Homo sapiens: one gene and its partner. The protein of the gene in region 1 purifies or fractionates together with the protein of each later gene. This does not show direct contact. Each region holds a gene or a part of one and is shown in the gene's direction. Other genes may lie near its edges.

Region 1 (4,631 bases):
AATTGCAAGAGTGAGAATGGAGATGCATGGAATTTTTGTTTAAATACCTCTTGTGATTTATTTTTTTAACCACATTAACTTTTAAGTAACGTCATTGGAGTCTGTCTTGTATTATCTGTGAATGTATAATTTTAAAAGATACTTGGTTTTGTTTGACTTTCTTGAACTTTTGCAGGATAACACATGATTATACAATTGATATGATTTGTACAAAATATCAACGAATAGGGCAGATTTCGAACATAACACTAACGTATTTCTGCTAATTTGGAGGATGAAACAAGAGTTAGTAGATGTGCAAAAAAAGTTTCCTTGTTATGTAAACCTTTTAAATTTCTATTAATTTTAGAAATATTTAGTTGTACTTCCCTGTCCTGCCTTTTCCCTCAACCTCATCATTTCCCCAAAACCCCTTCTGTCTGTCTTGCATAGAGATAAACAAGCTGGCTGACCCTCAGGTGCCTGATAGTCAAACAGGTTTGGTTGACCGTTGTGTCCTTATGAATTTTATGGGGGAAAAAAAAGAGAAAGAAAGAAAATAAGTGTGCTGCACATCTCTTTGGGAATCACTGCCATGAATGTTAATAGCATTTTTGTAGCTTCCCACGACAGCCTCTTGTGACAGAGTGAGCTGCACTACAGTTCGTTTGAGAAGTGTGATTCTGCTGTGTTTACCACACTTGTGAACTTTTAAACTCCTTTTTCTTATTTTGTCGCCTGCTTCCTTTTTTAATTATTATTTTTAATAAGGGTGACTGAGGTTGCAGAGAGATTAATGTGTGCTGAGTCTGCATAGCAATTTCAAGTAGGGTTGCCATGATAATAAACATACGGATTTTGTTAACGTTTATGTTAATTTCGACAAACTGGTGATCACCCCACAGAAGTGAATAATTATGGACTACCTTTTGAGTCCTATATTCTTGGCTAAGAATTTTTCTATTTACTTAATTAAACATTCTTATTTTATGAACTCATTACAAAATTTTCCAAAGTCTTCATCAATTGAGCACTTGTTAAACCTCTCTTACGTGTGTAGCCCTCATGAATCTTGATTTATTTTCCAAACTCTTGATAAACTGTACTTAGCAGCTCCAAATAATCATACATGACAATTCTAGCAGGGAGGGTGTCATCATATTTTTGGGGTCCAGTTCTTCTGGGGGCACTCTATGACTTTGGCTACTGCCTGAGTATTCTCAATGGACCACTAGAAAGTAGATATTGTGGCAACCCTATGCTCATAATAACCACTAAATTTGAGTTTGTTTTATCTTTGAACAACATGCTACAGTTAGGAGGTGACTACCGCCTGACTTTGTTTTCCATTTCTCAACAGGATACCTGCCCACTATGTCTATCCGCAGGCTTTTGTGCAGCCGGGAGTGGTCATTCCACACGTCCAGCCGACAGCAGCTGCCGCCTCCACCACCCCTTACATTGATTACACTGGAGCTGCATACGCACAATACTCAGCAGCTGCTGCTGCTGCCGCCGCCGCTGCTGCCTATGACCAGTACCCCTATGCAGCCTCTCCAGCTGCTGCAGGATATGTTACTGCTGGGGGCTATGGCTACGCAGTCCAGCAGCCAATCACCGCAGCGGCACCTGGGACAGCTGCCGCCGCCGCTGCAGCAGCTGCTGCCGCTGCAGCATTTGGCCAGTACCAGCCTCAGCAGCTGCAGACAGACCGAATGCAATAGACCAGCCATCTGATCAAAGTTGAATTGTTTTCTCTTTCCCTCCCAATTTTCCAATTTTTAGTAGCTAATAAGAGAGTTAACATTGACTTAACAGCTTTAAAAAAAAAAACAGCCATGCTATTGTGAAGCAGAGTTATTATTTTTTTTATACTCCAGGTAGTGTTCTAGATGAGAAAGAGGTAAGAATGAGGGGAATGGGCACAATTTTGGAAATCAATCCCAAAGAGCCTGAGTAAATGAAAGGCCACTACGAAATGACGCCAGGAGTAACAACGGAACTTCACTTTTGTAACGGGATTTTTATTTTTGCTCTTTTTATAGTATCAGGGAAGCAAACTGCCTTTTACAAGTTAGAAAATGCTGTTTGAATCTAGTTGAACCAGGGAATACAGAGCGAGCAATATGTAGCTTGAATTACATTTAAAAGCAGATTTTTTACAAACAAAATGGCGAAAGCACTGATTGTCATTTTTAGCAGTCACTTAAGGCCTATAGAACTTTTTTCAAGTCGGAAGGTCCTGTTCTTACTATCTCAAAAATGGGCATCGAACAATCAATCTAGGAGCGTGGCAGTGGGTAAAATGGTGGACAGGCACCAAAGCTATTTTCTCATCTGTCCTGTGGATGAGTGGAACTGTGGAACAAGTGATGTGGAATTAATGGGTGCAACAGCTGTACAGACAATCAATAACACACACAGTTCTGGAAAGAACACATCACTTGTGCTTGTTTGATGAGCTTGTCACATTCTAATCCCTCTCCCCATCCTGTTTCAATTTTGGGAAACTTGTATCTGCTGGTGTCAGCAATTCTGATTCTGAAATAGGATCAGGCTTTTACTACAACAGCCTTCTCTTTCTATTTATTGTGTCGACTCGTGGCTTATGAATAAAGGCAGGCAAAGTTTGCAGAACTGTCTTAAGGACATTTATTTTTTTTCCCTTTTTAAGTAATTTTACACTTTAGTATCTATTTCAGAGTCATATTTAAAACTATTTATTAGTGACTACAGTACATGAGACAACAAGGTTACTGAGATTACAATTCTTCAAAGGTTAATGATAATGTGGTTTATACTGTGCCTTAATAGTAATGCTATTTAAGATATTTATTTTTAAGTTTTACTATGCTGCACTCTAAAGAAAGGAACTTTAGATGTGACACTGTAAAATTATGTATTCATCTCATGGCATAAATTATTTAGTAAGTCTAGATGTAGCGTATTAAATATTAACCTATTCAACTAAAGATGTTGACTTGGATTTATTTAAATTCATATGTGCACTGTATAAGAGAGTACTCTTACATTAACACATTTTAGTTTAGTTTTTAGATTTTTTTTTAAACGATATATTGCTAGTTTCATGCTTCCTCCTCTGATTTTGCCTGTGTAGATTTCATTTATTGGTAATTCATTAGTTTAACACTATTATGTAGTTTTTAAATGCTGCTTTACATTTTTCTTCTGAAACTGCAATACTTGCAATTTTTATTCTTAAACTAAATTGAATACTATTTTACACTGTATTGGATTTTTATACTTGAACAATTTCATACAAGGGAAGACAGGTTAGCATTTTTATGGACTTTCTCCATTATCACTGGATTTACTTTAAGTATTCCCATACTAGACAGTGTTATGTAATGTAGACATGACTCTCCTGTGCAAATTATTTATTCGTTGTGTATATTGCTTTATAACATTTCAGATCTTCTAATCTATTCACTTGTATTAAATATAATTTTTAAAAACTTCTGTTGCATTGGCTGTTTCTAATTCTGTAGTAAAGGTCAATGATTTCTCTTTTGAACTTGAATCAATAGCCATGATTGATACGTAACATTTTCAGTGAGCATAATACTCTCTTGGATGTCCTGGTTTTGTGCCTTTAAAGTAAGTTTCACTAACTGAATATCTACCTTATACTTAGCAAATGATATAGGTCATCCCCTGTCCCACCAGGGGAGCCCTAAAGGACTTCGTATCACTGAAAACTGGTTAGCTGAAAGATGGCTTGGAAGGCGTGGGCCAGTAGTAGAGAGGACTAGTCAGAAGTGGGACCAGCCCAGTGGTGCTCGGGTCAGCTAAACTCAGGTTTGAGCTGGACTCCCCACTTTTCAGCAATGTTAGTGAAGCCAATTGCTCTTCGTAATTCACCTTTTTTTTTTTTTTTTTTTTTGAGACAGAGTCTTGCTCTGTCACCCAGTCTGGAGTGCAGTGGCACGACCTCGGCTCACTGCAAGCTCCGCCTCCCAGGTTCACGCCATTCTCCTGCCTTAGCCTCCCGCGTAGCTGGGACTGCAGGCACCCGCCACCTCGCCTGGCTAATTTTTTGTATTTTTAGTAGAGACGGGGTTTCATCGTGTTAGCCAGGATGGTCTAGATCTCCTGACCTCATGATCTGCCCGCCTCAGCCTCCCAAAGTGCTGGGATTACAGGTGTGAGCCACCGCACCTGGTCTGTAATTCACTTTTTTAATGCATTCCTCATCTATAATATTGTGACAATAATACTTGTCTCGCATGGTTATTTAAATAATTAAATTTAAAAAGCACACCAACTACTTGCCACAGAGCCAGATACATAGTAAGTAAATCTGTAGTAGTGGCCAGGCGCGGTGGCTCACACCTGTAATCCCAGCACTTTGGGAGGCCAAGGCAGGCGGATCATGGGAGACTGAGACCATCCTGGCTAACAGTGAAACCCCTTCTCCACTAAAAATACAAAAAATTAGCCAGGCATGGTAGCACGTGCCTGTAGTCCCAGCTACTCAGGAGGCTGGGGCAGGAGAATCGGGTAGGAGAATTGCTTGAACCCAGGAGGTGGAGGTTGCAGTGAGCAGAGATCATGCCACTGCACTCCAGCCTGGGCGACAGAGCAAGACTCTGTCTCAAAAAAAACTATATATATATATATATATATATATA
Region 2 (8,868 bases), on another chromosome or scaffold:
CTGGACGCGGTGGCTCACGCCTATAATCCCAGCACTTTGGGAGGCCGAGGCGGGCAGATCACAAGGTCAAGAGATCGAGACCATCCTGGCCAACATGGTGAAACCCCATCTCTACTAAAAATACAAAAATTAGCTGGGCATGGTGGCGGGCGCCTGTAATCCCAGCTATTCGGGAGGATAAGGCAGAAGAATTGCTTGAATCCGGGAGGTGGAGGTTGCAGTGAGCCGAGATTGTGCCACTGCACTCCAGCCTGGCGACAGAGCGAGACTCTGTCTCAAAAATATACATATATAGTTATTATATTTTATCTACTACTTTGTGTTAGTTCCTGTTTCATTCCTTTATGTTACTTATTTTTTTTCCATTTGTAAGATATATACTAAGCTTTTTGAATCGTTTCTTCATTAATAATGTAGTCACGAGGCTGGGTGGCTTACTTCTGTAATCCCAGCACTTTGGGAAGCCAAGGCCGGTGGATCTTTCGAGCCCAGGTGTTCAAGGCCGGCCTGGGCAACATGGTGAAACCCCACCTCTCCCAAAAATACAAAACAAGTAGCCGAGTGTGGTGGTGCATGTCTGTGGTCCCAGCTACTTGGGAGGCTGACAAGGGAAGATTGTTTGAGCCTGGGAGGCAGAGGTTGCAGCGAGCTGAGATGCTCCACTGCACCCCAGCCTGGTTGACAGAGTGAGACTCTGTCTAAAATAATAATAATGAAGTCTTTTTTTTTTTTTTTTTGAGATGGAGTCTTGCTCTGTCGCCCAGGCTGGAGTGCAGTGGTGCAATCTCCGCTCACTGCAAGCTCCGCCTCCTGGGTTCACGCCATTCTCCTGCCTCAGCCTCCCGAGTAGCTGAGACTACAGGCGCCCGCCACTATGACTGGCTAATTTTTTTTTGTATTTTTAGTAGAGACGGGGTTCCACCATGTTAGCCAGGATAGTCTCGATCTCCTGACCTCGTGATCCACCCGCCTCGGCCTCCCAAAGTGCTGGGATTACAGGCGTGAGCCACCGCACCCAGCCATAATGAAGTCATCTTAAAATGACTATAAATTTTCCTCAGAACATGTAGGGTCCAGCCGTACGGGGCTTAGTGGGTGTTCTCCCCGTGTGCGGAGATGAGAGATTATAATAAATAAAGACACAAGACAAAGAGATAAAGAGAAAACAGCTGGGCCCGGGGGACCACTACCATCAAGAGGAGGAGACCGGTAGTGGCCCCAAACGGCTGATATTTATTGCATACAAGACAAGGGGACAGGGTAAGGAGGGTGAATCTTCTGAGTGATTGACAAGGTGAAGCATGTCACGTGATCACAGGACAGGGGCCCCTTCCCTTTTAGGTAGCTGAAGCAGAGAGGGAAGGCAGCAAACGTCAGCGTTTTCTTCTATGCATTTCTAAGAAAGATCAAATACTTTAAGACTTTAACTATTTCTTCTACCGCTATCTACTGTGAACTTCAAAGAGGAACCAGGAGTATGGGAGGAGCATGAAAGTGGACAAGGAGCGTGACCAGTGAAGCACCACAGGGAGGGGGTTAGGCCTCCGGATGACTGCGGGCAGGCCTGGAAAATATCCAGCCTCCCACAAGAAGCTGGTGGAGCAGAGTGTTCCCTGACTCCTTCAAAGAAAGGAGACTGCCTTTCGCAGTCTGCTAAGTAACGGGTGCCTTCCCAGACACTGGCGTTACCGCTTGACCAAGGAGCCCTCAAACGGCCCTTATATGGGCGTGACAGACGGCTCACCTCTTGCCTTCTAGGTCACTTCTCACAATGTCCCTTCAGCACCTGACCCTATACCCGCCGGTGATTCCTAGGTTATATTAATGATGCAACAAAGAGTAATATTAAAAGTTAATGACTAATGTCTACACTAATGATTGATAATGTCCATGGTCATCTCTATATCTAATTTGTATGATAACTATTCTTACTGTAACTATTTTCTTTATTATACTGAAACAGTTTGTGCCTTCAGTCTCTTGCCTCGGCACCTGGGTAATCCTCCGCCCACAAGAACACAGCTTTAGCTGCCTCCTGTAGGAGTTCAGTAGGAAGGGAATCTACCTTTGTAGTGTTTGATATGTAGTTTTAAGGAAGGAGACCACCCCTCATATATATGTCTTATGCCCAATTTCTGCCTCCAAAGAAAGAAAAAGTAAAACCTAAAAGACAGAAATAAAATCCACAGGCAGACAGCCCAGTGCCGCGCCCTGGGCCTGGTAGTTAAAGAGGGACCCCTGACCTAACCGGTTATGTTATCTGTAGATTCCAGACATTGCATGGAAAAGCACTGTGAAAATCCCTGTCCTGTTCTGTTCCGTTCTGATTACCCGGTGCACGCAGACCCCAGTCACGTACCCCCTGCTTGCTCAATCGATCATGACCTCTCACGCAGACCCCCTTAGAGTTGTGAGCCCTTAAAAGGGACAGGAATTGCTCACTCAGGGAGCTCGGCTCTTGAGACAGGAGTCTTGCCGATGCCCCCGGCCGAATAAATCCCTTCCTTCTTTAACCTGGTGTCTGAGGAGTTTTGTCTGCGGCTCTTCCTGCTACAGTTTGTAACCAGATTATTTCTGACAAGTTTTGATCCAGGGTTTTTTTTTAAAGATTTGTCAATTTCAAAATATTTGTTTGCTCCTGCTTCCTGTTCTCTCTCTCCCTTTTTTTTTCTTTTTTTAAGACAAGGTCTCACTCTGTCACCCAGGCCGGAGTCTAGTGGTGGGATCACTGCTCACTGCAGGATCCAACTCCCAGACTCAACAGATCCTGCCGACTCAGCCACCGACCCCATAGCTGGGAATACAGATGTACATCATCACACCCAGCTAATTTTTAAAGTTTTTTGTCGAGATGGGTCTCACTGTATTGCCCAGGCTGAGTTTTCTTCTTCTTTTTTTTACATTTTGTTTGCCTAGAATTGTATTTGATTGTAATCAAATCATGTGTCACATCTTTTTTTCAATTTGTGTGATTATTTTGTGGCCCAATACATGATTTTTTTTGCGAATATTTCATGGACTTAAATAGATAAGTCCTCTCTCTACACATAATTAAATGGAGTGTGTGCTTTGCATTATTCAGTTCCTTTATTCCCATCCTTGCTTTTGTCTGCAGATTTGTCCTATTCCAGAATGGGTATACTGAAACTTGGGTAAGGGTGAGGCCAGCGTTCTGGGTGGCCCAGGCTACTATCCCACCCGTGCCACAGAATCCACACAGAGGCCCAGCGGCGGCACTGGGTGGTGGGGAAGGGGGAGGCGGACCCAGGTTGGGGGGGCAGGCAGTCAGTGCGGTTGCCAGGAAGCGGGAAAGGGCCACAATGGGGTCTGGGAGGTGGGCGGGGCGGAGCGGGGATGTCCAGCCACGTCGCTTTGTTTTCCCACGCTAGGAGCTACCACAACAGGTCAGTGCACCTCGGGGCACCGGGTCCCCCACGCAGGCCCTTCCCGGGGCACCCTTTCCCAACAGCACGAAAATCTCCTGCCCCCACCCCACCCCCAGGTGATTCCCTTCACCAAGTCTGGGTCTAGACTTGGCCCCCGCGAGTTCACGTCCCTGCCTAATGCGCCTGGAGTCCGGGTGATGGCCCTGGATCCGCTCCCGGCCCCAAGCTCCACACAGCCGGGAAGGAAGCTCGCGTTTGTTTTGCTGGCGCCAGGGATACGGTCCAGGCCCCGCCCCGCCCCGCGCTGATCCCAGGGTAGTGGGAAAGTGCGCTCCCCAAGAATTTGCGGTGCAGGGGCCGCGGCCACCGCCTTCTGTCCGCAGGTGCTGCGAGCCGTAAGCGCCCCCCACCCGCGCTATGGGCTCGGACGCCTGGGTGGGCCTTTGGCGGCCACACCGGCCCCGCGGCCCCATCGCGGCGCACTACGGAGGCCCCGGGCCCAAATACAAGCTGCCGCCCAACACCGGTAGAAGGGGCAGGCCCCGGGATTGAGGGGTGGGACGGCGCCTGGGGGAGGGAAGGGGAAGAGACCAGGGAGGCCTGCGCTCGGGGCTGAACCGTGCCTGCTAGAGGGGAGAGGGGGTCTGTGCCGGGGGAGGGTCCGTGTTGCAGATGGGGCTTGGGGCTGGGCCCGGCCAGACGCTAACTCGGATGCTCCCAGGCTACGCCCTGCATGACCCGTCGCGGCCGCGCGCCCCCGCCTTCACCTTCGGCGCGCGCTTCCCCACGCAGCAGACGACGTGCGGCCCCGGGCCAGGCCACCTGGTGCCCGCTCGCATGACCGTGCGCGGCACCGACGGCGCCCCCGCCTACTCCATCTACGGCCGCCCACGCCGCTCAGCGCCCTTCCTCACTCCGGGACCTGGTCAGGACCCCCGGGCCCCTGGCCACCCCAACGCCGAACTGCCTCCAGGGAGGCCCACCTGGGAACCCCCGACCTGAACCCCGAGTCCCCCTCGGATACCCTAACACCGCATATTCGGTACCCCCATATCCGGATCTCAAATCCCAAACCCCGAACCCCACGGGGCTTTGATAAATCGTGGCTCAGACTCCCCACTAGTCCCAGGACCCCATCTCGGGTACCCACCAGGCTCCCACGCAGTTCTAGCCCCCCACACCCTTGATCCGCCCCGCAGGCAGGTACTTCCCGGAGCGAGCGGGGAACGCGACGTACCCCAGTGCGCCTCGGCACACCATTGCTCCCCGAAACTGGGGTGTCCAGGCGGAACAGCAGAGCCCAGGTGAGGTCAGAACGGCCCATCCCAGAACTGTGGGCCTTCCCACTCGAGACCGGGGACCGCCCTCCGGGAGCTGGGACCACCCTGCGCCTGTCCGCGGAGACCCACTACCCCCGAGCCCTGCCTCCTCCCCAGGTCCCGCGGCCTATACGGTGCCCTCGCTCTTGGGTCCGCGCGTCATCGGCAAAGTCTCCGCCCCAACTTGCTCCATCTACGGCCGCAGAGCGGCTGGCAGTTTCTTCGAGGACCTCAGCAAGGTGGGGGAGGGGCCGGGGCGGACGCAGGGGGTCCCTGGTCCGCGGCAGTGGAGGCGGCAGCCAGCACCCTCTGCCCTCTCGCAGACCCCGGGCCCCTGCGCCTATCAGGTCGTGAGTCCAGGGGTCTACAAGTCCCGGGCCCCCCAGTTCACGATTCTGGCGCGGACTTCGCTCCCCCAAGACAACACTCGGAAGCCAGGGCCCGCGGCCTACAACGTGGATCAGGTGGCCTGGAGCCCAGGGTCAAGGGTCAGAGTCAGGAGAGTGGGGAGGGCCTGAGGTCGGAGTGATGGGATCAGAGTCCCCGGGGGTCCAGGGGTCCCGGCGCGGAGAGGATGCCGGCCCCGCGAGGTCAGCGGTGTCTCCGGGCCCGCAGCACCGGAAGCCCCGCGGCTGGAGTTTCGGGATCCGGCACTCGGACTACCTGGCCCCGCTGGTGACCGACGCGGACAACTGACCCGCCAGGCGGGAGCGGCCCCACACGTGTTTGCTTAAAGTCTGCGAGTCCGCATCGTGTCCGCCTCTCTCTCTCTCTCTCTGCGCGTCCTGGCGCAAGGCCTGGGGTGGAGCCACGGCTGGGGCCGTGTCCCAACTCCGAACCCAGCGGGGCGGGGCCCGAGCGTCGGGCGAGGCCGGGACCCCAGCGCTGCGCCGCGTCCGAACGTCGAGACCCCACCGAGGGCGGGAGGGGGACTCTCGGGAGCCACAGACGCCCGAGACCCACGCCGGGCGGGACCGGCCAGGGATCACCCCCGCCGACGGCCCCGGGCCCCGACGGCCCGGAAGTTCCGCGTGTCCGGGGGCACCGGGGGATTGGCCGGGGCGCGGCGTGCAAGGCTTCCCGGGGGCGGCGACTGCCGAGCTCCGCCCTCCAGGCGGCCCCACCCGCCTGCCGTCCTGGGGCGCCGCCGCCCCGCCGCCGGCAGTGGACCGCTGTGCGCGAACCCTGAACCCTACGGTCCCGACCCGCGGGCGAGGCCGGGTACCTGGGCTGGGATCCGGAGCAAGCGGGCGAGGGCAGCGCCCTAAGCAGGTACGGGCGGGGCTCAAGTCGCGAGGCGGGGAAGCGGGAGGCAGACACGGACGAGGGCGACACAGACACGGGACCGAGGGGCGGACACCGGAGAGACACGGGAAAGGGGTCGGGACAGGAGCACGTGGCTCAGACACCGACGCCGGGAGGCCGCAGACCCCGGACGTGTCAGGCATCCCCGCAGGCCCGGAGCGATGGCAGCCTTGATGACCCCGGGAACCGGGGCCCCACCCGCGCCTGGTGACTTCTCCGGGGAAGGGAGCCAGGGACTTCCCGACCCTTCGCCAGAGCCCAAGCAGCTCCCGGAGCTGATCCGCATGAAGCGAGACGGAGGCCGCCTGAGCGAAGCGGACATCAGGGGCTTCGTGGCCGCTGTGGTGAATGGGAGCGCGCAGGGCGCACAGATCGGTGCGTGGGGAGGGTTGGGCGTTCCTGACCCCGACTGGGAGGTCAGCCCGAGAGACTTTGGGTCCCTGGGGGTGCGACGGTGCCCCACTACCAGCACCGGCCCCAGGGTGCCCCACCGCTGTGGGCTGCCACCCTCACGCGTACCCCCACATACCAGGGGCCATGCTGATGGCCATCCGACTTCGGGGCATGGATCTGGAGGAGACCTCGGTGCTGACCCAGGCCCTGGCTCAGTCGGGACAGCAGCTGGAGTGGCCAGAGGCCTGGCGCCAGCAGCTTGTGGACAAGCATTCCACAGGGGGTGTGGGTGACAAGGTCAGCCTGGTCCTCGCACCTGCCCTGGCGGCATGTGGCTGCAAGGTTAGAAACCACCTCCTTTCCAGACGGGAGCCTATACCGCACATGCAGCAACCAGTCCATCCACAGGCAGCTCCCAACCTCAAGCCTGGCCCAAAGCCTCCAAGACCCTACCAAGGCTTCTCCCCACCCTGCTCCCCAGCACAGTTCTCCCCACCCCGTTCCCCAGCACAGCGCTTGGGGCCCCTCTGGCTCCAGACCAGGCCCCTTGGAGCAGGAAAAAGATCCACTGATGGAATTCAGACCCCTTTCCCCTTGGGTCCCCAGACAGCTCCCCCAAGGGAGGAGCTGAGGACTTTCCTCCCTCTGCCCCAAGCCTTGTTTCCCCAAGGACAGGTACCAACCTCCTCCCCTACTGACACTTCTCAACCAAGAAAACTTCCTTTCCATTCCCTCACCAGCTGGGCACCCCTATAGCTGCTTAAATACTTTCCAAATCCAGCTGCACTCCTAGCCAGGGAAGGTGAAGGGATGCACAGAGGTGGGGGAGGGGTACTGTGCAGGGTACTCAGCATCCCTGACCACCAGGTGCCAATGATCAGCGGACGTGGTCTGGGGCACACAGGAGGCACCTTGGATAAGCTGGAGTCTATTCCTGGATTCAATGTCATCCAGAGCCCAGAGCAGGTACGGGGCGCCACGGATCAGTCATTAATCCAGGTTGATGATGGAGACCCTGGCCAGAATCACTAAAAGATCACTGGTGGATCATTAGGGTCACTAATGAGAACACTGGTCAAGGTTACTCATGAGTCACTGGGCCTGGGCCGAAATCATCAGTGGAACTTTGATTAGGATCATAAAATGGGAAGTTGGTCAAAATCACAGATGGCTGGCGGGGCACGGTGGCTCACACCTGTAGTCCTAGCACTTGGGGAGGCCGAAGAGGGCAGATCCCTTGAACCCAGGAGTTCAAAACCAGCCTGGATAACACGGCAAAACCCCATCTCTACAAAATAGTTCGCTGCGTGTGGTGGTGCACGCATGTGGTTCCAGCTACTCAGGAGGCTGAGGCAGGAGGATCACTTGAGCCTGGGAGGTCTAGGCTGCAGTGAGCCGGGACGATGCCACTGCACTCCAGCCTGGGCAACAGAGTGAGACCCTGTCCCAGCACTCTGGGAGGCAGAGGAGCCCAGTTGGAGATCAGCCTGGGTAATATAGTGAAACTTGATCTCTACAAAAAAAAGAAGAAAAAAAAAAGCCGCGTGTGGTGGTGCGCACCTGTAGTCCCAGCTACTGGGAAGCTGAGGTGGGAGGATCACTTAAGCCCAGGAGGCAGAGGTCACAATGAGCCGAAATTGTGCCAACTGCACTCCAGCCTGGGCAACAGAGGAAGACTCTTCACAGAAAAAAAAAAAAAAAAAAAAAAAGCTGCTAAGTCATTTACCATAAGTCACTGAGAACAGGGGATGTCTGACCAGATGCAAGTGCTGCTGGACCAGGCGGGCTGCTGTATCGTGGGTCAGAGTGAGCAGCTGGTTCCTGCGGACGGAATCCTATATGCAGCCAGAGATGTGACAGCCACCGTGGACAGCCTGCCACTCATCACAGGTGACCTGACTCCATGGCCTGCTTCTGCATGTTCACAGGCTCCTGACCTCCAAACTCAAGTCAAGGGCCTCTCGTTAGGAGTTACCCGTCACCTGACCGTGTGCCCCCCTACCCCCATCACAAGATGCCTGACCACCACCATGTGGGGTGGCCTGATACTCAACCCACCAGGTGCTGCCACCCCCATAATAAGGGACTTGACCCTCAATGCTCAGGGCCCCTGACCCCAAAGTCGGCATCCCCGAACTCTCCCAAGAAGCTCCAGGTTCTCCATTGTCTCCAACCTCCTCTGCCTCCCCCAAAGCCTCCATTCTCAGTAAGAAACTCGTGGAGGGGCTGTCCGCTCTGGTGGTGGACGTTAAGTTCGGAGGGGCCGCCGTCTTCCCCAACCAGGAGCAGGCCCGGGAGCTGGCAAAGACGCTGGTGAGCGGTGTGGCCTTTCCCTGGGCAAGCGTCTTGATGCGGGCCCAGCCTACCCTTCACCCCTCCCGTCCCCACTGCCTCCCTCCACTCAGCAGTCCTGCCTAACCCCAGTCCCACCCTCTTCTGCCCGAAGTCCCTCCCTCCTTCACGGC

What was found. Proteins that work in one complex are often made in the same cells at the same time.
Region 2: the proteins of RBM24 (region 1) and TYMP purify together in Homo sapiens (affinity purification with mass spectrometry; 3 studies listed by BioGRID and IntAct, with this or other methods). This does not show direct contact.

What each region holds. Positions count from the first base shown.
Region 1 is NC_000006.12:17,290,417-17,295,047, forward strand, and holds the end of RBM24 (RNA-binding protein 24), read left to right. Parts: intron 1-432; coding exon of another isoform or gene 433-477; intron 478-1,339; coding exon 1,340-1,703; coding exon of another isoform or gene 1,704-1,716; 3' UTR 1,717-3,455; downstream 3,456-4,631. UniProt on the Homo sapiens protein: Multifunctional RNA-binding protein involved in the regulation of pre-mRNA splicing, mRNA stability and mRNA translation important for cell fate decision and differentiation. Plays a major role in pre-mRNA alternative splicing regulation.
Region 2 is NC_000022.11:50,527,013-50,535,880, reverse strand, and holds the start of TYMP (thymidine phosphorylase isoform 1 precursor), read left to right. Parts: upstream 1-5,868; 5' UTR 5,869-5,977; exon of another isoform or gene 5,978-6,161; 5' UTR 6,162-6,171; coding exon 6,172-6,385; intron 6,386-6,542; coding exon 6,543-6,745; intron 6,746-7,270; coding exon 7,271-7,369; intron 7,370-8,163; coding exon 8,164-8,293; intron 8,294-8,597; coding exon 8,598-8,716; intron 8,717-8,868. Other genes in the region: CIMAP1B (ciliary microtubule associated protein 1B), read left to right, coding at 3,804-3,912, 4,108-4,311, 4,586-4,690, 4,823-5,223. UniProt on the Homo sapiens protein: May have a role in maintaining the integrity of the blood vessels. Has growth promoting activity on endothelial cells, angiogenic activity in vivo and chemotactic activity on endothelial cells in vitro. Catalyzes the reversible phosphorolysis of thymidine.